Regions from separate parts of the Homo sapiens genome. Here region 2 is linked to region 1. Evidence: fine-mapped expression QTL. A gene starts in region 1. The other region holds a variant in brackets. All regions are shown on one strand. Distances are from middle to middle.

Region 1 (10,924 bases):
GTAAATAATGAAATGCGTACATGCAGCATATGTAATTAGGTTAGGTGCATAAATCCAAAGTGTTCACTTTATAGTTGTCAGTGCAAAATTTATTAATAATGAGAAATGTTAAGTGAAGAAAATTCTTAACACCGTCTACCTCATTAGTGTGGATTACAGCAATTGTTGGCTGAAGAAAAAGAAGGCTACAAATAGTCGTGGTTAGGCTTCATTTTCTTAGTTGTCTTTTAATCGTTTAAAAGTATTAGTGAATTGGAGCACATTGGTTTCTCTTTTTAGAAATGTATGATTTGAAACAGGAGTTGTGGATTCGAATGCATGCTGCCAACGGAATAATTCCACACTGAAAAAATACAGGCCTCAGGGTTTCTAAATCCAAACAATTATTTAAGGGGGGAAATTCAATTAACATTTGAGAAGAAAAACCTTCTTTTATGATTAAACTGTCAGATTTGAATCTGAAGATTCAGCTTTAAGTTCGCTGTGAAGGTGCATAGACAGGAGGCGATGCATCACCAGCTGTCTCTGTTTCCCCTGCCTGCCCCAGCTCAATGGGGACAGAAAGAAGCACCTTGTCAAGTACCTTCCGTGAACCCCAGGTTTGCCTGGGCTGCTGGCACAGGTGATGAAACAGGGATTTGAGGAGACCTCAGGTACCTGGGAATGAGACTTGATGGGATCGCTGAGTATGTTGGCGTGGAGATTACAGGGACCTGGTTGAGTGGGTGCCACCAACTCCATATTAAAGAATCTGACTCATAACCTGGTTAGAGTTAGGTCTGTACTTCATGTTAATCATTAATACCAATGTATGGTCTAAGGGGCAACCAACCAGAAACAAGATAATGAGATCCCACTGTGTCACTAACTAGTCTGGTAACTTCCAGAAAATTCTCTAAATTCTAGGGCCTTAGTTTCTTCACCTATCAAATTAGAGGACTGTCATTCTGGCTTTAAAGGTCTATGATTCACAGAGATGGTATTGGAATACATCAGATTTTGTGCAAGCAGTTCCATGAGTGTCTTGAAAAGAAAGGGAGAGTATGATGGTACGAACATTCATCATCTGACCAGGTATTGTTCTAGAGACACTTATACATTTATTAGAAGATGGAAGATACGATGACAAAAGGAAGTCCATGTGGTATTTTAGTAAATGACATGACTAAAAATGTCTTACTAAGGGAGTGTGGGCTGCCTTTCCTCAGCAGCGGGGACCAGAGACGTTCGAGTTAGTTACCGTGTATTGACTCCAGATAAATGACATGACTTAGCCACTACTTAAGAACTTTCTTACCTCATATATATATATATATATAATTTAAATATATATTATACATATTTAAATATATATAATATATTATAAATAATATATATTATTTATATTATATAATTTTTATATAATATAAATATATAAAATATATAAAAATATTATTTATAATATATATAAATTAAAAGAGAACTAGAAGGCCTATTTAGGATAATGAAGTGACATTACAAAACAAAGACTACATGTTACAATTTTCCTATCTGCCTTCGAGAGGGGAATGACTAATAATTTTATCTTCAAACATTTCTATGATTTACACGTTTTCAAAGAGGAATATTCTGATGGTGAATAATCCAGTTATTACATTATTTGCTAAATTAAAATAATTATTTGCTATTCTCCTGACTTAATTCTCAGATGTCTACAAACTAAAGAACTTAGGGCAAAAATGGCTTAATTCAGTCAAGAATTCATATTGTTAAAGGAAAAATCCTATGTGGGATCCATAATATGGCTAGTTATTTAGTGGGGAGAAAGCAAAGCAAAAGAGCAAATATTTTACTGCACCCTAAGAAAATATCAATTGGATTCAGCCAAGCAGTTTGCTATCGACTAAATCAATATATACCATTTTTTCAAACACTATTTTTTGGTAGAAAGAACCAATATAAGAATAATCAAAGTGTGATTGGTTTTGATCTTCAAATAAAAAGCCATCATAAGTCGCTGATACTGGCCAGGCGTGGTGGCTCACGCCTGTAATCCCAGGACTTTGGGAGGCCGAGGTGGGAGGATCACCTGAGGTTGGGTGTTTGAGACCAGCCTGGGCAACATGGTGAAACCCCGTGTCTACTAGAAATACAAAAATTAGCCAGGCGTGGTGGCATGCGCCTTTAATCCCAGCTACTTGGGAGGCCGAGGCAGGAGAATTCCTTGAACCAGGGAAGCAGAGGTTCCAGTGAGCTGAGATGGTGCCACTGCACTCCAGCTTGGCCTGGGCAACAGAGTAAGACTCCATCTCAAAAAAAAAAAAAAAAAAAGAAAGAAAAGAAAAGTTGCTGATACTTTTAGTGCCTACTCAATAGCCATCCTCCCTTATTCCTTATTCCTTGGGAGCTGCCCTGTCCAGATTCTAGAGAAAAAATAAAAAAGTTTCTAAGCCACTAAGCTTTGGGATAGTTTGGCTGCAGAAATTGATGACTGGGAAACGGACTAAAATTCAGCTTTTGTTTTGGCATTGCCTGTCCTGTCAATTCCCTGCTCTCCTGCACCGCTCCCCTTACCCTCAAAATAATTCAAGACTAAATCCTGATTAGTTATCAATTCTGATAATCTTGCCTCTCTTGCCAGTGGTAGTTTAGAGATAGTCACGTGCCCTGGTTCTGGCCAATGAGAAAAGATCTGAGGGATCTTTGGTATAATTTCTCCACTCTTAAAAAATTTGAGAACAGTCAACTTTTTTGGCTGGCCTTTGCCATGTCTTAAAGTGATGCCTGGAACTATGGCAGCCATTTTGAGACCTTGAGGAGAACTAGCTAAGGACAAGGTCAGCAAGCTGAGGATGGCAGAATTTCAGAAAGACGAGAAAAACTTGACAACATTAAACATTTTTGACCCACTAAATTAACCAAACTTAGCATCTGCTACCTTGGTACTTCCTACATGAGATACTACATTTTCTTCATTTTTAAAGCTACTACAGACAGGTTTTCTATTACTGAAATCAAAGTTATCCTAAGAAAAACAAGCAGCGTATGAAGCTTTATTTTATCACATCTGACAGAACAGCTCAGCCTTAAGTTGGGAGTAAGATTTATACAATTCTGCTGATAATATTTATTACTCATTTTAATTGTTTGCATGGTAATATTGAAGCCCCCCAACTGTTAGGAAATGTGCATTATTTTAACAATACTGGGTATCAGTAAATAAAATATGCTAAATATTGCTGAAAATAAACACTAAGTAACTCAATTTGTGTCATTATATGTGAGGAATGGGAAAAGCTTCTTGGAAGAGGTGATATTTAATCTGGACTTGGAAAGATCGGTGATATTTGAACAGTTGGACATGAAGTTCAAGGGCATTCTAGAGAATGTCATGGGAGAGGAAATGCAATAGCATGATTTGGGGATGTACTGTAGTAGACAAATAAGGCTGGAGCTGGGTTAGGTGCAGATTGTGGAGGGTCTTAAATGTCTTGCTAAGGGAGTGTGGAGTGCCTTTCCTCAGCAGTGGGGAACAGAGATATTTGAGTTAGTTACTGTGTATTGATTCCAGATAAACGAATAAAGCATATAGTATGTATATATTTTTTATAGTTTTTTTGGTATATTTTCATGAAAAGTGTGTATGATTTTAGTGAAACCATAAAAATCCATTTTCATTCCAATTTAGATTCTGTTTTAAAGTAGTTGCCAAGGAAACTAGTAAGTGACTGGTTATGCCCGATTTTCCCTAAGTTCAAAATTAGATGCAAATTCTTCAAAGAGACTACTTGAAGGCCAGTAAACATTTCAAAGGCAGTCAAGCTCAGACGCCTGGGTGTGTGGGTGCAGGAGGGTTAGAAGGGGGGTTCTGATGTTCCTGGAGGGAAGAGATGCCTTGCCTGTGTAGGCAAAGAGCTACTTTGAGGGAAAAAAGCTGAATGAGTTAGAGGTGAGTGCCCAGGAAGAGAAGCTGGAAGTGAGAGGTTCCACTGAAGTGCCTAGAAACAGACACTCTTTAATGGAGACAAGACCAAATTTCTGGAGTTTTCCTTTGTTTACATCTTTTTATCTTGTCTCGTTTCAAAAAGGAGTTAACTTTAAATATGTCCCTGAATAAACACGAGGCAGCATGACTCCATCGCAGGTAGAGATAGGACTAAAACATGATTCTCCTAAACTTTAACCCTGGAGTTAGCTCACTTAATCCTGTAAATCTCTGCAAAGACTAACTTTGTTCCCTGGCTCCTCCGTGGTTGCCAGGTGGTGGATATACATTCTACAACAGAAGAAACTGGAATCGCTAGAGGTGTCTTTTTTTAGGGCAAGGAAGCATTTCCCAGAAAACCCCAACAGATGTCCCCTGGCTTGGCCTTGGCCAGGACTGGTCACATGCTCTTTTCTAAGCCAGTGCCTGGGCAAGGGAAGGGGTTGGTCATAACGGATTTAGACTACTTAGGATTTACTTCTGGGCCAAGGAGAGGGAGGGGGTGAGGGAGGGGGTGAGGGAGGGGGTGAGGGAGGGGGTGAGGGTGGGGGCGGGGGGCTGGCCCGGCCTAAGATGGCTGGGGGTGATGCGTTCGGGGGACAAAGGAGTGCTGGACAGTTGTGTGAGCTGTAAGAAGGACCCGGAAAATACTGCAGAGTGATTGAGAGTGTAGAGGGGCCTGGGTTCTCACCTGTGCTCCCTCCCACCTTAGCTGGGTTATGCTGGGAACCTTTCAAGGCTTTGCTAAGCCTGGGTTTCCAGGAGTGCAATAAGATCGCTGTGATAAACATGTAGGTAAAGCAGTTGGCATAGTACCTTGCGTAGAATAGTCCTCAGCATATGTTTACTACTGTCGTTGTTGCTATTAATAAAAGTGACCTAGCTCCTCTCCTCGAGAAGTTCACAAGGGGCCCAAATGTGACAGGGGGAGCTATCAGAAGGCGGGAGGTGACTTCTTGCCAGGGAGCAAGCCAGGGCAAGAAGAGAGGCGCCGTGAAGCCTGCGTTCCCTCCCGCACGCGGCTTGCCTCGGTGGCCACACGGGGAGCTCAGCAAGGCCCAGGGTTCGGGAGGCGGGTCCTGCACAGCGACGCAGCCTTGTCCCGGTGGCCGCAGGCCTGGGGAGCAGGGCGCAGCACACCCGCCGCCCGCTTGCAGGCGAGACGAGAGCGGGGCGCCGGGATGCTGGCGTCCAATTTAACCACCAGGGCGCACGGGACGGAGGCCGGGGGTCCCGCTTTTCCGTCAGAGTTCGCGGTCACGAGTGGAACCCACTGAGCACTCTAGTTTCCTGGTATTTTCATGGCAGTAATTGGATGACAGAGTCAAGAGGCAGGGCCTGCGCCGACACTGACTAGCAACGCGCGGCCTCTGAGCCGCGCCCGGCCGCCCACCCCTTCCTCCTCCAGCACCGGGCCGGCTCCCCCTCCCGGCCCGGCTCGGCGGCTGGGGGGTGGGCGGAGCCGCGGCCGGGCAGTTCATTATGTTGGACAGGGCGCGTCTGCGCCTCCGGCCGCCGCGGCTCCCGGGGCCTCCGCCTGCAGCCGGCGGCGGAACGAGGGCAGGCGGCTGAGACAGGCGAGCTATTTGCATTCCCCGGCAGTCATTTTTATATGCGGAGGTAATGAAGTTGTCAGCGGCGCCCCGAGTGTGGCAGAGCCTGATATTCAAATCGCCCTGCCCGCTCCGCCTGCTCCCGCCCGCTGGTCCCGGGAGCCCCAGGCTGCGCGCGCCCGCACCGCATCGCCGCTTTGCCCCGCGACCGCGCGCGCCTCCTCGTCCTCCCCCGCGCCTTTGTTTCCGTCTCCTTCTCCTTTCCCTCCTCTTTTGTGTCGGGCCAGACTCAGCCCCAGAAACCAGCCACCCTGCCGCGTCCGACTGCCAGGGATCCCTCACGCCGCGAGGTGAGCTGGTCGCAGGTGTGGGGAAGTTCGCGGGTGCAGCTAGGCCGCCGCCCTCGCGCTCGACGCCACGCCCGCCTCCTCTTTCCTTCCCCAGGGGCCCCTTGCCCTCCCTTCACCTCCGTCTCCAAGAAAGATGACCTAGTACTGCCATTACCGTTTGGGCCTAGAGGAGTTTTCGTTCCTCTTTCCGAATGCATATTTGTGGTCATTTTTTATGATTGCAGAAACCCAACACACAGCTATTCTGTCAGGCTGCCGAGAAAAGGCTGTTCGGCAGTTGCAGCCCTGGTGAGGCAATGAGGAGGAAAGGTGGACGCACCTGCCTGGAGTGGTTGAAGGAAGGCAGTGAACATCCACGCTCCTGGGGTTGGTTTTCCTGAACCTCTGTAGCTGTGCTGCTCACTGGGGCAGCCACTGACCACAAGAGGCTGCCGAGGGCTTGCAGTGTGGCCAGGCCAGACCAGGATGTTCTCCAAGTGGGAAATACACACCCCATTGTAAAGAAGACTGTATGGAAAAAAGAATGTGAACTGGCTCATTCATCATTTAAAAACATTGATTGCATATTGAAATGATAATATTTTGGGTATATGGGGTGAAATAAAGTATCATGAATTAAATCTTTTTTTAAAAATGTGGCCACAAAGAACATTTAAATTTACACATGTGGTTCACATTATATCTCTGTGGGATCGCACTTAAGACCCAACCCCACCCATCCTCTAACTCTGCCCTCTCAGCTTGCTCTACAGGTACTTTGGAACAGGGCAGGGATGGAGGGAAGGTCCTTGTATCTTAGGGATCAAATGCCCAGGAAAATAATTAGGAGGTGTTTGGGATTATGCTGAAAACCCTGACAACACTGAATAGCAGATGTCTCTTTCTTTTCCCTTTGTTCACTGTAAAGAAAAACTTACACTCCCCCACAGCCATGCCACAATTCCATGGACCAACCATTCATGTGTGAAGGTGGGCCTCTAGGAGTGTTTTGTGCCTTTTAGGAGTTATTTGTGGCACACTAAACTTGCTGACATGCCATTTAGAAAAGTGAATACTGTGTACGCACTGTAACAACTATTCCATAAGTATTTTTGGTGTACACTGTTCCTCAGCACTCACAGGCTTCGGAGTAGGGGCTCCCGGAGTATGCATTGACACGATGCGCTGCAAATGATCCGGGCGTGGGGAAGTCCCCGAGTGTGCATTGATTCCACACACGGCCACGGCTCCTACAGGGCTTTTATGGTGCAGCTCGCCAATGATCCGTGTGTTAAAGACTCCCCAAATACACATTGACACGATAGACTGGAGTTGTTTGGGTCTATCGTGGCAATGATCCGGGGATAATGGCAGTGTCTTATACAATTTCACTGAGATTGGAGTGCTCATGGTCCTAATGGCAGAACCGGAACTGCCCCAGTTAAGTCCCACCATGGCGCCCAGTAAAGGGTGTGTGGGTCTTTGACCTTCTGCTTCATGACACTGTGGCATTGCTAATTTTACTGATATTTTAACTAACATAATTGAGTTAGCATTTTTTTCCCCCTGAAAATTCATTTTTGTAATTCAACACCTGAATTAGGGAGTCCATCTAGTGATGGTTTCATTTGGTTAATCATAAGCTAAAGACCTAGGAAAGGTCATTCTTAAACCTAAAGTGTTTTGGGAAAAATAATCGTGGGAGATGCATATGAGCTTGAGACAGAGTTAATATGGAATAAATAACCTCAGTCCTGAGAAAACCTAGTTGGCTAGGCTGAAATAGACAAGATGAGAAGGTGGGAAGAAGATGTTTTTAAAAATAATGAAAGTAACATATTCAATAAAAATAATTCAAACACTGTAGAAGTGTATGAAATAAAAAACAGAATCCTCCCACTCCTTCCTTCCTTCTTTCTATACCATTCACTGTTACAAGCACTATTAATATTTTTGTATATTCTTCCAGTAACTTAAAAACACATGCAAATATATACAGTCATGCATCTCTTAATGATGGGAATATGTTCTGAGAAATGCATCGTTAGGCGATTTCATCATTGCACGAATATCAGAGAATGTACTTATACAAACCTAGATGGTGTAGCCTACTACCCACCTAGGCTATATGGTATAGCCTATTGCTCCTAGGCTACAAACCTGTACAGCATGGTACTGTAACAGAATACTGAAGGCAATTGGCCAGGCACTGTGGCTCACGCCTGTAAATCCCTGCACTTTGGGAGGCCAAGGCTGGCCTTCAAGACCAGCCTGGCTAACATGGTGAAACCCTGTTTTTACTAAAAACCCCAAAATTAGCTGGGCTTGATGGCATACACGTGTAGTTCCAGCTACTCAGGAGGCTGAAGCAGGAGAATCACTTGAATCTGGGAGGTAAAGTTTGCAGTGAGCAGAGATCATGCCACTGCACTCCAGCCTGGGCAACACAGCAAGACTCCATCTCAAAAAAAAAAAAACAACACTGTAGGCAACTGTAACACAATGGTGAGTACTTATGTATCTAAATGTAGAAAAGGTACAGCAAAAATACAGTATAAATGGTAAAAAAAGAAAAAATACAACTGTATAGGGCACTTACCATGAATGGAGTTTGCAGGTCTAGAAGTTGCTCGGGTGAGTGGAGTGAGTGGCGAGTAAATGTGAGGGTCTAGGACATTGTGTATACTAGTGTAGGCTTTATAAACACCGTACACTTAGGCTACACTAAATTTATATTTAAAAAGGTAATTGCTCTACAACATTGTGATGGCTATATTGCCACTAGGCTATAGGAATTTTTCAGCTCCATATTAATCTTATGGGTCCACTGTTGTATATTTGGTCCATTGTTGACCGAAATGTCATTATGTGGTGCATGACTGTATATCTACTCTTTGTTTACACAAATGGGTTAATGCTGAATGTTAATCTTCAACATCTTATATTTTCAATTAATAATACAGTCATGTGCCCCATAATGATGTTTTGATCAGCAATGGACTGCATATACGATAGTGGCCCTGTAAGATTACCGTGGAGCTGAAAAATTCCTATCGCCTGGTGATGTCTTAGCCCTTGTAACATCTTAATGCAACACATTAGTTGTGTGCTTGTGGTGGTGTCAGTGTAAACAAACCTACTGCGTTGCCAGTTATTTAAAAGTATACCACATACCACAGTATGCCACATTATCAAGTACATAATCCTAGATAATAACAATAAACAACTGTTACTAGTTTATGCATTTACTATACTATTTATTATTATTTTAGACTACTTTCTACACATGCATACACACATATTTATACACACATATATGTATAAAAGTTAACTATAAAACAGCCACAGGCAGGTCCTTCAGAAGGATTCTAGAAGAAGGAATTTTAATAGAGGAGATGGGGGTGGGCACGGTGGCTCACACCTGTAATCCCAGCACTTTGAGATGTCAAGGTGGGTGGATGACCTGAGGTCAGGAGTTCGAGACCAGCCTGGCCAACATGGTGAAACTCTATCTCTACTAAAAATACAAAAATTAGCTGGGTGTGGTGGCAGGCACCTGTAATCCCAGCTACTTGGGAGGCTGAGGCAGAAGAATCGCTTGAACCCAGGAGGCAGAGGTTGCGGTGAGTGGAGATCATGCCATTGCACTCCAGCCTGGGTGATAAGAGCAAAAAAAAAAAAAAAAAAAAAATGAGATGGCAGTTCTATGCACTGATGACCTTACAATGGGACAAGATGTGGGGATGGAAGACAGTGATATTAATGATCCTGATCCTGTGTAGGCCTAGGCTAATGTATCTGTTTGTGTCTTAGTTTTCAACAAAATATTTAAAAATTAAAAACAATAAAAAATAAAAATTTTAAAAATAGAGAACAGCTGATATAAATAAGGATAAAAAGGAATTAAATAATTTTGTACAGCTATACAATCTGTGTTTTAAGGTACGTATTATTACAAAAGAATCAAAAGGTTAAAAAAATTAAAAATTTTATAAAGTAAAAAGTTATAGTAAGCTAAGTTTATTATTGAAGAAAGAAAATAATTAATAAATTTAGTGTGGCCTAAGTATACAGAGTTTATTTATTATTTTCACTTTTTATTTTTTTGAGATGGGGTCTTTCTATGTTACCCAGGCTGGATTAGAACTCCTGGGCTCAAGTGATCCTCCTGCCTCAGCCTCTTGAGTAGCTGGGATTACAGACGTGCATCACCATTCCTGGCTAGAGTATAGAGCTTATAAAGTCTATAGTAATGTGCAGTAATGTCCTAGGTCTTCACATTCGCTGTCTACTCATTCACTGACTTACTCAGAGACACTTTCAGTCCTGAAAGTTCCATTCATGGTAAGTGCTTTATACAGGTGTACCATTTTTAATCTTTTTTTTTTTTTTGAGGTGGAGTCTCGCTCTGTCGCCCAGGCTGGAGTACAGTGGTGCGATCTTGGCTCCCTGCAACTTCTGCCTCCCAGGTTCAAGCGATTTTCCTGCCTCAGCTTCCTGAGTAGCTGGGACTACAGGTGCGTGCAACCATGCCCAGCTAATTTTTTGTGTTTTTAGTAGAAACGGGGTTTCACCATGTTAGCCAGGATGGTGTTTATCTCCTGACCTCATGATCTGCCAGCCTCGGCCTCCCAAAGTGCATTTTTTATCTTTTATACTGTATTTTTACTGTACATCTCCTATGTTTAGATACACAAATACTCATCATTGTATTACAATTGCTACAGTATTCAGTACAGTACCATGCTGTACAGGTCTGTAGTCTAGGAGCAATAGGCTACACCATCTCGCCTAGGTGTGTAGTAGGCTCTATGATCTAAGTTTGTGTAAGTATACTCTATGATGTTTGCACAATGATGAAATCACCTAACGACACCTCTGTCAGAAAGTATCCCCATCATTAAGTGATGCATGTCTATTGAACTTTACTCCTTCTTAGCACATTTAGATCTGTGGCGTCCTTTTAAATAACTGCATGGAATTCCAGGGTATGGATATAACAATGTTTAGATGTATGCTATTTCAATCATTACTGCAGTGAATATCCTTATAAGTCACATTTGAAAATTTGTGCAAGT
Region 2 (10,924 bases), 62 kb after region 1:
AAGAAAAAAAGGGCCCACAGATTGGAAAGGAAGAAGTAAAGCTATCACTATTTGTAGATTGCATGACTATCTACACATTATTGCCATTATGAAGATAAGGAAAGTGAGGCTCAGAGAGATGAAGTGATTTACCTGAGGTCACGCAGGTATAAAGGATGGCGCTAGCACTCAAACTTGGATCCCCTGACTCCAAACCCTGGAATAAAAAGAGGGACTATTTCATTCACTTAAACCTAAAGTAAAGTTTCAGTTATGCTTCTTAAAGAAGATCCAGTGGCACTGGACATTTTCCAGAGCAAATCAACTAAAATGAAAGTGGGAATGCAGAAGGCTTATCAGTGTGGGACAGACTAACTGGCTAGGCTCTTTAGTCTGAGCACAGTGAAGTGTGGACAATATGGGACTAGGGTGACCGTGGATCCATTCACCAGCTCCTGAGATGGCAAAACTGTTGACCTCGGTAAGGTCAGGACTGGTAAAAATACTTTCTCACAGTAACTTCAATATACTTAAGAAACTCATTGTCAAGAGATGATGCAGGATAGAAAAGGTTTAGAAAAAAAGATGTTGAGAGATTCATAACTAGGCTGACCATATCATTCATCATCATAACTGATTTGACAGAAAGAGGGTCCTATTAGTAATTGCCCTAGGTCAACAGGCATAAAGACTGTCCTGGGCAAATTAGGACATTTGGTCCCCCAGCCTATAATAGATATAAAGGAAACTGGCATGTTTGGGTGGTGGGGGGTGGAGAGGCACATCGATAACATTAGTGAACATCTGTTCAGGCACTGGCCAGGCAAGTCATGGTGAATGTCTTAGGGCCTGGAACCCCTACTAGGAGAGTCAGATCTTTGTTGCCCCTTCAGGTGTTCCTGGCCCTTGCTGCTAATTATAATAAATAAGAACAGTAGCGACCATTTGTTGAGCACTTACTACACACCAGGCACTGAGAAGTGCTTTATGTGAAAAATTTCATTCAACAATCCTAGAAGGAAGGCACTATTCCTCTCTCCATTTTACAAGTGAGGAAACAGAATCTCAGAGAGGTTGAGTAACTTTCCCAAGGTCACTCAGCTGGAAAGTATTGGAGCTGAGAGTTGAACCCAGACTCTCAACCATGATGTTAACCAGTCTTTACCTTTTCTCTTTTGGGTTGCAGGCCATTTCAAGGACCCAGGTGTCTGGCATAGGATGAGTGTATGGTTAGACAGCACCAGAGTGGAAATAGGGGAACATCAGTGGCATCCCAGCCTCCATGTCAGCCTTGAGCCCACACTAAGAGACACACAGAAGCATAGAGTGACTGCTGGTGACTGCTCAGAGTAGACATGACCCTGGTTTTTGGCCCAGAGCAGCACCAGCTTCCAGAGCAAATCATGGAGTGAATTATCCAACAGCTTTGTTTTGTTTATTATTGCATTGTTTTGCTGTGTGGACAGACAGGAATCTTGACCCTCCAGATACCTGGGTAATGTTCCTATAACCACCCAGGTCATTTTTGGGTCAGGCAGCCCACATTCAATTCTTTTCATCTTTTTCCATCAGTCAATCCTTAATTATTTTTATTGCTTTTCTCTGAACTCTCATCAATTTGCTGGCATATCACTTTTCGGGTGGTGAGATACCAGAAGTGTTCTTCAGAGAAATTATAATCTCCTGTGCATGATGTAATGCTTTGGCTTAGGCAGTTGAAAATCACAGCAGCAATTTCAGCTGCTATTGGTATCATAACCCGCGATCAATTTGGTCGTCTCCAATTAACTTGACTTTTTTTTTCAGTGAAGGTAAGTACATGGCTCAAAGTCAATATAATTTATATCTGAACTATTCCAAGGATATGTATATATGTATGTGTGTGTGTATTAAAAGCAAAAAAAAAATGAAGCAAGTTCAGGAAGCAAAAAAGAATGTCTGGTCTTTGCTCATTACTGATCACCCCCGATGTGCCAGACCCCAGCTGCTAACTAAGCTCAAGAAGAATCTTATCTTGAAATGTTTAGGACATTTTAAACATTTTCTTCATTAAAAATTACTCTTGTTTTCCTTGACACCCTTTAATGATTACATTTTTACTCTCATGTTCCTATTTGTAGATTGAGAGCTTTCTCTTCTAGTAACAGTGACCCACTGTGACTCAGGTTATAACTATCTGTGGCTTGATTATTTTGAAGTTAATTATGCTTTGGCATGAATAATTACATTAAGCAGGTTATATTAGAATACTCACCATGTAATATTCTTTTCTCATAAGTAAAAATGGAAGACTGAGTTAACTTGGAGTTGAAAGAAATTAATTTGAACAATTTGCCGTCCCTCAGATTTAAGCCACTTTGGTTACTTCTTTTTTCCAAGTTGACTCATTTTTTTCAAGTCTATTTGTCTTTAGAGCAGCTCTCTTTTCTTTTCTTTTCTTTTGTTTTTCTTTCTTTCTTTATTTCTTTTTTAACCTTGTATTATTTGCACAAAGATGGCGGTGTGAGTATTAGTTCCAAAATGATGGCATTGTCTCATGACAATCACAGATGCAGTTTTAAAGTTCTGGTATTTAGCACGTAATAAAAAACACCAGGAACACACAGCTTCTCTGTGAGGGATGGCTCACTGGTGTACAGAGTTGAATCACACAGAGCTGGATCTGGTCACCCATCGTTTCTTGTCCAGATAGTGGCTTTGAAATGGCCTCTCAGAAAGTCAGAGATGACCTCAGGCCTGTCCACAGCTCCAGCAGCTGTTTCCTGCCTCCCAGCCATCTCATGATGGGATGCAGATCTAGTTGATGTTTTCAGCCCGCACGGATCACTTCCTTTTGTAATTTAGACCCATGAAGGCCTTCTCAAATGGTTTTGTTCACGGTGTAAGAAGTCATTTTCTTCCAAGAATCTACCTATGTTTCAGAGTTGGCCTCATTTTCTGCAAGGTCAGCTTTACCTGGGGGTGGCAGAGAGATGATTCAGGATGTGGATTTCATTAGTGCATTTTGTTTAAAAATGAATACAGATCACGTTCTTTGATGTGTGTCTTTAGTTGAAAACACCACCACCACCACCGTCACCAAATGCTACCCTAAAAACTTCTCTGTAAAGTCATGACAATATCCTCTTCTTGCAACTCCCCTGACTTTGTGTCTTTCTGTAATATACAGTATAATTTATAAAAGTGTGAGCAACTGTGGAATTGTTCTCCTAATAGATTCTGAAGATTCCAATTTCCATTCTGCCACACAAGACTGAAAATCCACTTGTGCTCACTTATCTGTATCTGTACCTCATCCCCACGCTGCATCAAAAATCAGGTTCAGGTGCAGGTTAAGAGCACGCATTTACCTCCAGAATATGGGACTTATTAAATATCTCTCCACAATTAACATCACCGTATCAATAAGAATTATCATTAGGTCCTGTCAATCAGGTGCTGAATTTTGCTTCAGGGAAACAAAACAATTTAAATTATAGCAAGTGCTCCCCTTCTTTTTTACTTGCTTCTCTTTAAATTGGATAATTATGTGGCTTTTCATTAGATTCCTCTAAGCATAATAGATCACGATATTCACCCTTTGACCTTGGTGATGAATGTCTCTGGTGAAAACATGTGACAAGCAGTGTTCTAATGAGAACAAAATACTGGATAACTGGAAATCTTGTATAATGAAAGGAGGAAGCAGGAGGGAAACATAACCTTTAAGGTTGATGCACAAAATATATTTGTAATGAGGCAATAATATGGGCTGGGGAGAAAAGGGGCTAGTTTTGTTTCTAATAATGTGGATGGAAATGATGATTTTTCTCCTTTGGAATGTGAAAAACAATGGAGAAACAGACATTTCAGGAAAGCTGTGCATCAGAAAATTCTGATCTCAACTGAATTGTAAGCACAGATGGAATGAATCTGCTGGCCTAAGTGGGGATTCAAATGACTCGCTGCGACTTGGAACACCTGCACATGGCAGTGTGAGGGTACCTCTCATTTTATTGCTTTCTTTATGGGAGTTCCAAATGTAAGGACAGCTTAAAAAGGAAACAATTTGGTCTCAGGGGATCTATAATTGTATTGGGGCTGTCAAGAAAGGACAAGGGAGGCAATGGGACACCCCCAGTACTTTCCAACCTCCCTCTCTTGGTTAGTCCCTGAACAACCTGCCTTGTTGGAGCTGGGACACCACCTACATCTTCAAAGTCCTCTTTCTGTGGTGTGAAGAGAGGTTGGGGCATCCTAAAGGTGGCCCTGAAATGTAGCCGGAGGTCAGGGAAAAGCCAATGACCTCTAGCTTCTTCTTCTTGGTTCCTCTCCCAACCCCCTGCACACCTGGATTTCCTGGATGGCTACTTATTGGGCTGACCCAGGCACAGCTTTGCTCCTTGTGGTGATGGATGGGGGATTTCCCATCAAATCAGCCCTTGGTACTGTGATTTGCTCTGGAGTTATGGAGACAGGTAGTTTGCTTCTTTTAG[A/G]TTTCTTAGATGCTTCTCTGTCCATTTAGGATATACAGCACAAGGGTAGCCCATTGTAAAGCCATTCATCAAGGGTATGGATTTGCTGTATCATCTAAGGACATGGGTTTGTGGCAGGAGCTACTTGTTAAATGCACAGGCTAGGCTGTGCTTGTTTTAGAGTGGAAGAAAGAGAGCTGGAAACCACCACTTATTCGGCACCCATTTTGTGCCAAGCACTCGCCCAGGCTCTTGATACATGCTCTCTGATTGAATTCTTCCATCAAACCTTAGCCTACTTTATGATTTGGAAAATGGCCCAACCTGACTCAGAATGACCTGACAGCAAAGCTGGGGTTTAATTGCAGGTTGGCCTGACTCCTAAGAACATGTTCTGTAGGTTAAAGGTAGCACAGAATGTAACACTTTTACCGTCTCCCAAGAACCATGCCTTTACTGTAACGTTATCCCCAGCTTACCTTTCCAGGTCTTGATGGAATCGATTTGGATTATTTGGACTTAATATTATTACCATCAATCTTGCTAGTTGTACAGTTTATTTTGTTTAACAGAAGACATGCAAGAGAAGAAACAGCTGCCTCTATAAGTTGATTTCTTCCGGTGAATTCCAGTTTGGAGGAAGAATTTGCAGGGAATGATGTATGTGCTTACAAAGGATTAAGAAACTAACCAGGCTCAAAACCATGGTTCCCTTTGTTTATCTGCAGATCTGTCCTGTTTAAGGTAAAATTCACCCTGGGCCCTCGCCCCTGACCTCCACCAGGTGACTTTTCATGGAGACATTCTCACTGCCAGCAATCCTTCAACTCTTTCCACAGAAGTCTGCCAGGAAGAGAAATGTCCAAAGTCCATTTTGAGCTCTCAGCCTGGGATTTAGCTGCAATTTTTCATGGACACTGGGCAATTACTGGCATACGAAGCCAAGGAGAAGCAAGAGAGGGAAGGCCCTGCTTCTCTAGTGAGATCATCATCTTTGCATCAGTCACTGTTAGAGACATCTCTGGTTTCTGTTCCCAGCCTAACTGCACAGAAAAGAGATATTCTAGCTTCTCCCTAGTTACGCATATGTGGAGAAAACTGAAAAAGATGGGTAATCATGGTTGTTGTAAGTACTTGGGGGCTCCAGAAGGTGTCCCTAAGAACTCCATAAAGAGGGGCTGTTGTTTCTCTGAGATTTAAACCTTTAGCACAAAATGGATCACAGTGCAGCTGCTGGAAGTCATCCGAAGGAGCTGAAAATTTTCCAAGCCCACACCCTCAATTGCAACTTGTTTGAGCAATTTTATTAGCAAATCTAAAGAAATAATGCTTTGATCAGAAAGGAGAGGGTTTACTCAGCATGGAAGCAGGACAAAAAAAGGGACTCAAAGGCAAATGTTAGCAGGGACTGCCCAAACCTTGTCCAAAAGAGAAGGAGCTGAAGTCAATCGACGGGTAATTTCTAGGCCTCTTGAAAGATGCATCTCCAATACGGTGTCAGAAATCATAGATATCACAAGTCTGTAATCAACAGATTTCAAGGATTCAGGTCCCCTTTGGGAAGAACATCCCATCCTATCATGGTGCCACTTAAACACTTAGTTTTCCTGTCTCAATTCAATGTTCACCAAACCTTGTCTTCAGGTTGCCTTGTTGCTGCTGAACATTTGCCAACAGAAAGTAGACAGGATGCTGACACTGTTGTAGACCATCTCTGATAGTGATTTCTTATTAAAAATGTCAATGCTGTGTTTTGATCTTATACATACATGCTGTGCTTCTGAGGTGTACCCATGAAAAGCTGGGCCAATTCTTACCAGTTGTCACCCTGCTGACAAGTGCAGGGTGCCGAGCCTTTGACTTAGAGCTGAATGCCAGCCCTGGACAGTGGGAACACAGCAAGCTGGTGCCTGCTAAGGAGGCTTCCCACAGAAAAGCTGCTGCTGCTTCACCTCAGCGTATACCTTGACACAGTTGCTATCCTGAAAGCGGTTTTTTCTTACCATTTTAACTAGTTTTAAGTGACCAGTTGAGCGGCATTAAGCACATTCACATTATTGTGCAACCGTCACCACCAGCCATCTCCAGAACTTCCTCCTTCTCCAGAACATTCTCCCAAATGGAAACCCTGCACCATTCAACAACTCCTTGTTGTCCCCTCCCCACAGCTTCTGGTTGCCACCATTCTACTTCCTCTATGAACTTGACTATTCTAGGTACTTTATATAAGTGAAACCATACAATGTTTGTCCGTTCGTGTGGGGTGTATTTCATGTCGCATAATGTCTTATGGTTCATCATGTCATGGCATGTGTCAGAGTTTCCCTCTGTTTTAAGGTTGAATAATACTTTGTTGAATGTATAAACCACATTTTGTTCATCTATTTGCTGATAGACACTTAGATTATTTCCACCTTTTCGTTGTTGTGAATAATGCTGCTGTGATATGGGTATACAAATACCTGTTCAAGTCCCTGCTTTCCATTCTTTTGAGTATGAGAGAAAGAATTTTAAATCTCTGCAGTAGTAATACTTGATCTTCTCATAGTGTGCTATGGTTTGTGAGGCCTGTAACATATTTATCTGGTCCTGTGAAGTAGATTGGTAGGTGGGTAGACAGGGCTATTGCCTTCATTTTGCTGAAGGAAAATTGAGATGTAAAGAGGTCAAGGGGGGAGCCTAGATCCAAAAGCTGGCTTTCTAACCACCAGCCAAGGGCTCTCTTCACCACCAAGCCAACTCTCAGGGCAGCAGCAATGTGTACCTTATTAACCGCTGCACCCCAGGTCCTAGCACAGGGCTGGTCCATAACAGGCGCCCAATAAACATGTGTCATAATCTAACTTGGAAGAAAATGCAGTGAATATCTTTCATTTTCATGGTACAAAGGAAAGTACCTCATGCCTATTTAAAATATTATACTGAAGTGTGACATGTGCATTCTGTATTCGCTATATCCTATACCCATCATTTAAAGTTGCTCCCAAAGTAAGTCATTTGGCTTTCCAACAAGGACATTATTTCATTTTATGGAAACTGGGAGAGATGTTTTGTCTTCTGAAGTATCTGGAGATTTCTTCTTCATTCCCAGACTCTTTCATCATCAAAACTACACAGCTTCTCACGGTCACTTACTTTGTTAAATTTGTAGTTTAAAATGAACATAAGGAAAACTACTTCTCCAACAAAGGATGCAGAGTTCCTGTTGTGCTCAACTCTGCCAGATCGTGGGCTTATTGACAATAGGTTTGGAAGAGCCTGGGAACAACCACATCCAATATACCTTTGGGATAATTCCATCCGCTATGTATCTTTCTCACCCTTGTGATGGTTTGAGAGGCAGAGGTACCTACACAGACTAAGTTGAGCTCCAGAGGTAGAGCCTGGCATTTCTGAACTCTTGAAGAGGTCCGTGACCTGAATCAGCATCCTGATTTAAAAGCAGTAACCAGTAACACAAAGGATAAATGCTTGACAGGATGGAGACCCCATTTTCTTTTTATTTTTAATTTTATTATTATTATACTTTAAGTTTTAGGGTACATATGCACAATGTGCAGGTTTGTTACAAATGTATACATGTGCCATGTTGGTGTGCTGCACCCATTAACTCGTCATTTAGCATTAGGTATATCTCCTAATGCTATCCCTCCCCCCTCCCCCCACCCCACAACAGTCCCCGGTGTGTGATGTTCCCCTTCCTGTGTCCACTGAACAATGTCTCATTGTTCAGTTCCCACCTATGAGTGAGAACATGTGGTGTTTGGTTTTTTGTCCTTGCGATAGTTTGCTGAGAATGATGGTTTCCAGCTTCATCCATGTCCCTACAAAGGACATGAACTTATCATTTTTTATGGCTGCATAGTATTACATGGTGTATATGTGCCATATTTTCTTAATCCAGTCTATCATTGTTGGACATTTGGGTTGGTTCCAAGTCTTTGCTATTGTGAATAGTGCTGCAATAAACATACGTGTGCATGTGTCTTTATAGCAGCATGATTTATAATCCTTTGGGTATATACACAGTAATGGGATGGCTGGGGGAGACCCATTTTCTATGATGTGATTATTACACATTTTGTGCCTGTGTCAACGCATCTCATATACCCCATAAATATATACACCTACTATGTACTCACAAAAATTAAAGATAATAAATGCAGTGATAATAAATGCGCAGAGAACTTGAACTATCTAGTGGAGCTTGTGACTTACCCAAGGTCACATAGCCAGTTAGGGCTTCCTTAAAAGTCTTTTTAGTAGTTTTTAACCTTAGAAGCAGAAGTGGGTGATGGCAGACAGAAACCAAAAGTCATGTAAATTTTATGTGTTTATAAGAATGTATTGGGGTGAGGAGATAGAGATGGACAAGGACTAGGATAGTGGTAACTGGACAAAGACCCCCTCCCACTGGACACTCTACCCTCTTCCCTGACCTCCTTCCAGAAAGGTATCGTGGAATGTTCACAGGTATTTTGCTGAATTAAACATTCCAGGAAACACTGGTATAGACAATTTGTAATTCATTGCATAATTACTGGAATTCATTGGATAGCAACCAACTCTCCAAGGCATTGTTCTCAGTACAGACCTGGCCTGAGTATCCTCCAAATCTGAACTTTTAGAGATGAATCCAAATCAATAGAGAGCAGAGTCATAGAGAGTTACTGTCAGAGAGCATCCAGTTAAAGGGTGAATGCCAGAGCCCATGTGTATCAATCAATAGAGTGCCACATGCCTATTTGAAGTATTATACCAAAGTGTGACACGTGCATTCTGCGTTTGTGCTATCCTATGCCTATCATTTAAAGTTGCTCCCAAAGTAAGTCATTTGGCTTTCCAACAAGGACATTTTCTTTCATTTTACAACATGCAATATATTTGTAACGACCTGTCATTTTTCTGAATTCAGTTCACCACCCTTGCAGGACGGAGAAGGACTGCCGTAAATGCAAGAGGGGTACCAAGGGCACCCTGTCCCTCTGTGGGCTTGTGTGAAGGAGGAGGAGGGGAGGATGGGGGACGGCTTACACAGGTCCAGACAGCCTATGCTGGTCTCCATTACTACTAAGCCCTGACCAGGCATCTCTGGGGGCCATGGTCAAGTGTCACCTTGAAAGTTGTGATTTTAGGCCGGGCGCGGTGGCTCACACCGGTAATCCCAGTACTTTGGGAGGCCGAGGTGGGTGGATCACTTGAGGTCAGGAGTTTGAGACCAGCCTGGCCAATATGGTGAAATCCCATCTCTATAAAAAATATAAAAATTAGTTGGGCAAGGTGGTGGGCACCTGTAATCCCAGCTACTGTATAGGCTAAGGCAGGAGAATCGCTTGAGCCCAGGAGGCAGAGTTTGCAGTGAGCCGAGATCGCGCCACTGCACTCCAGCCTGGGTGACAGAGTGAGACTCTGTCTAAAAAAAAATGTTGTGATTTCAGAGTGATTCTAGGGTCACCTTCTTGTGGGAAAAGAAAGGAAACCCACATTTAGTGAGCAAGTACTACGTTCCAAGCACCATCCATTCTTCATTTCATTTAACCCTCACAATAACTGTAGAAGACAATTTTACTTTTCCATTCTATTCCTAAGAAAACTGAGATTCGAGAGATTTAAAAACTTGGCCAAGATCACACAGTAACCAAATGGAAGAGCTGAGACTTGACATCCGAGCTGCTGCTTTCTCAGGTTGATGGAAGTTAACTGTGGGCTTTCGTCAATTACTTTTGTTCTGGAAAGAGGCAACCAGGCAGTGGCTGGCATGAGAAAATTCTTTTCCTAGGCAAGGGAATAGAGGGCAGAAATAAACTCATCTTGGTCATTCTGAAGGCAGGGGGATGGATGAAAGGCGAATGCCAGCAACACCATGTGTTCAAAGTTGTTTTGTTGTTAACCATGGGCATTATCAAGGCCTTTAATGTTGAGCCACCTGGCAATGAATGGCTAGAGCAGATATACATTTTGTTTTTCTTGTTCATGCAGGTGCTTTAAAAAGTGGGTTCAAATAAATATTATTCACTCAATAAGCATTTGTTGAGTTCCTACTACCTATTAGGCACTGACACAGGAACAAACTAAACAAAGTCCCTCCCCCAAATGGGCTTATATTCTAGTGGGGAGACAGTGAACAAATCAACAAGTAAAACCTGGTTTAACAGACAGCAATAAGCTGAATGGAGAAAAGTAAAGTACAATAAGCGAGCTTGAGGGCTGATGCAGATGTGTTTTGTATAGGGTTGTCAGGGAAGGCTTCACTAATATGGCGACACCAAGCAGGATCTAAAGGAACAGAAGGAGCAAGGCATGTAACTATTGGGAAATTGTATTTCAGCAGAAGGAACAGTAAGTGCAAAGATCACAAGGCAGGGTGTGCGTGGTGTGTTTGAGGCACAGCAAGGGGCCAGTGTGTCTGAGCAAAAGGAAAGAGGGAGAAGACAGGAGGAAATGGGTCAGAGCGGTAGCTGGGGCCGGAGACCATAGGGCTTTAGGCCTTG

What was found.
Region 2: its variant is fine-mapped to the expression of LINC02981 in prefrontal cortex (GTEx, PIP above 0.99).

What each region holds. Positions count from the first base shown.
Region 1 is chr7:26,393,155-26,404,078 of GRCh38, forward strand. It overlaps LINC02981 (long intergenic non-protein coding RNA 2981), which reads left to right and starts at 5,415. Exons shown (of 5, transcript NR_148502.1): 1 at 5,415-5,867. SNX10-AS1 (SNX10 antisense RNA 1) reads right to left here and starts at 6,264. Exons shown (of 2, transcript NR_136272.1): 1 at 6,187-6,264. RefSeq lists enhancers at 4,551-5,507, 4,582-4,821 and silencers at 5,292-5,751, 5,842-5,951.
Region 2 is chr7:26,455,205-26,466,128 of GRCh38, forward strand. The region is part of intron 1 of LINC02981 (long intergenic non-protein coding RNA 2981); the gene reads left to right. Among named protein-coding and RNA genes, the nearest start is that of SNX10-AS1, 61 kb to the left of the region's middle. The variant A/G (reference allele first, on the strand shown) is at 4,455.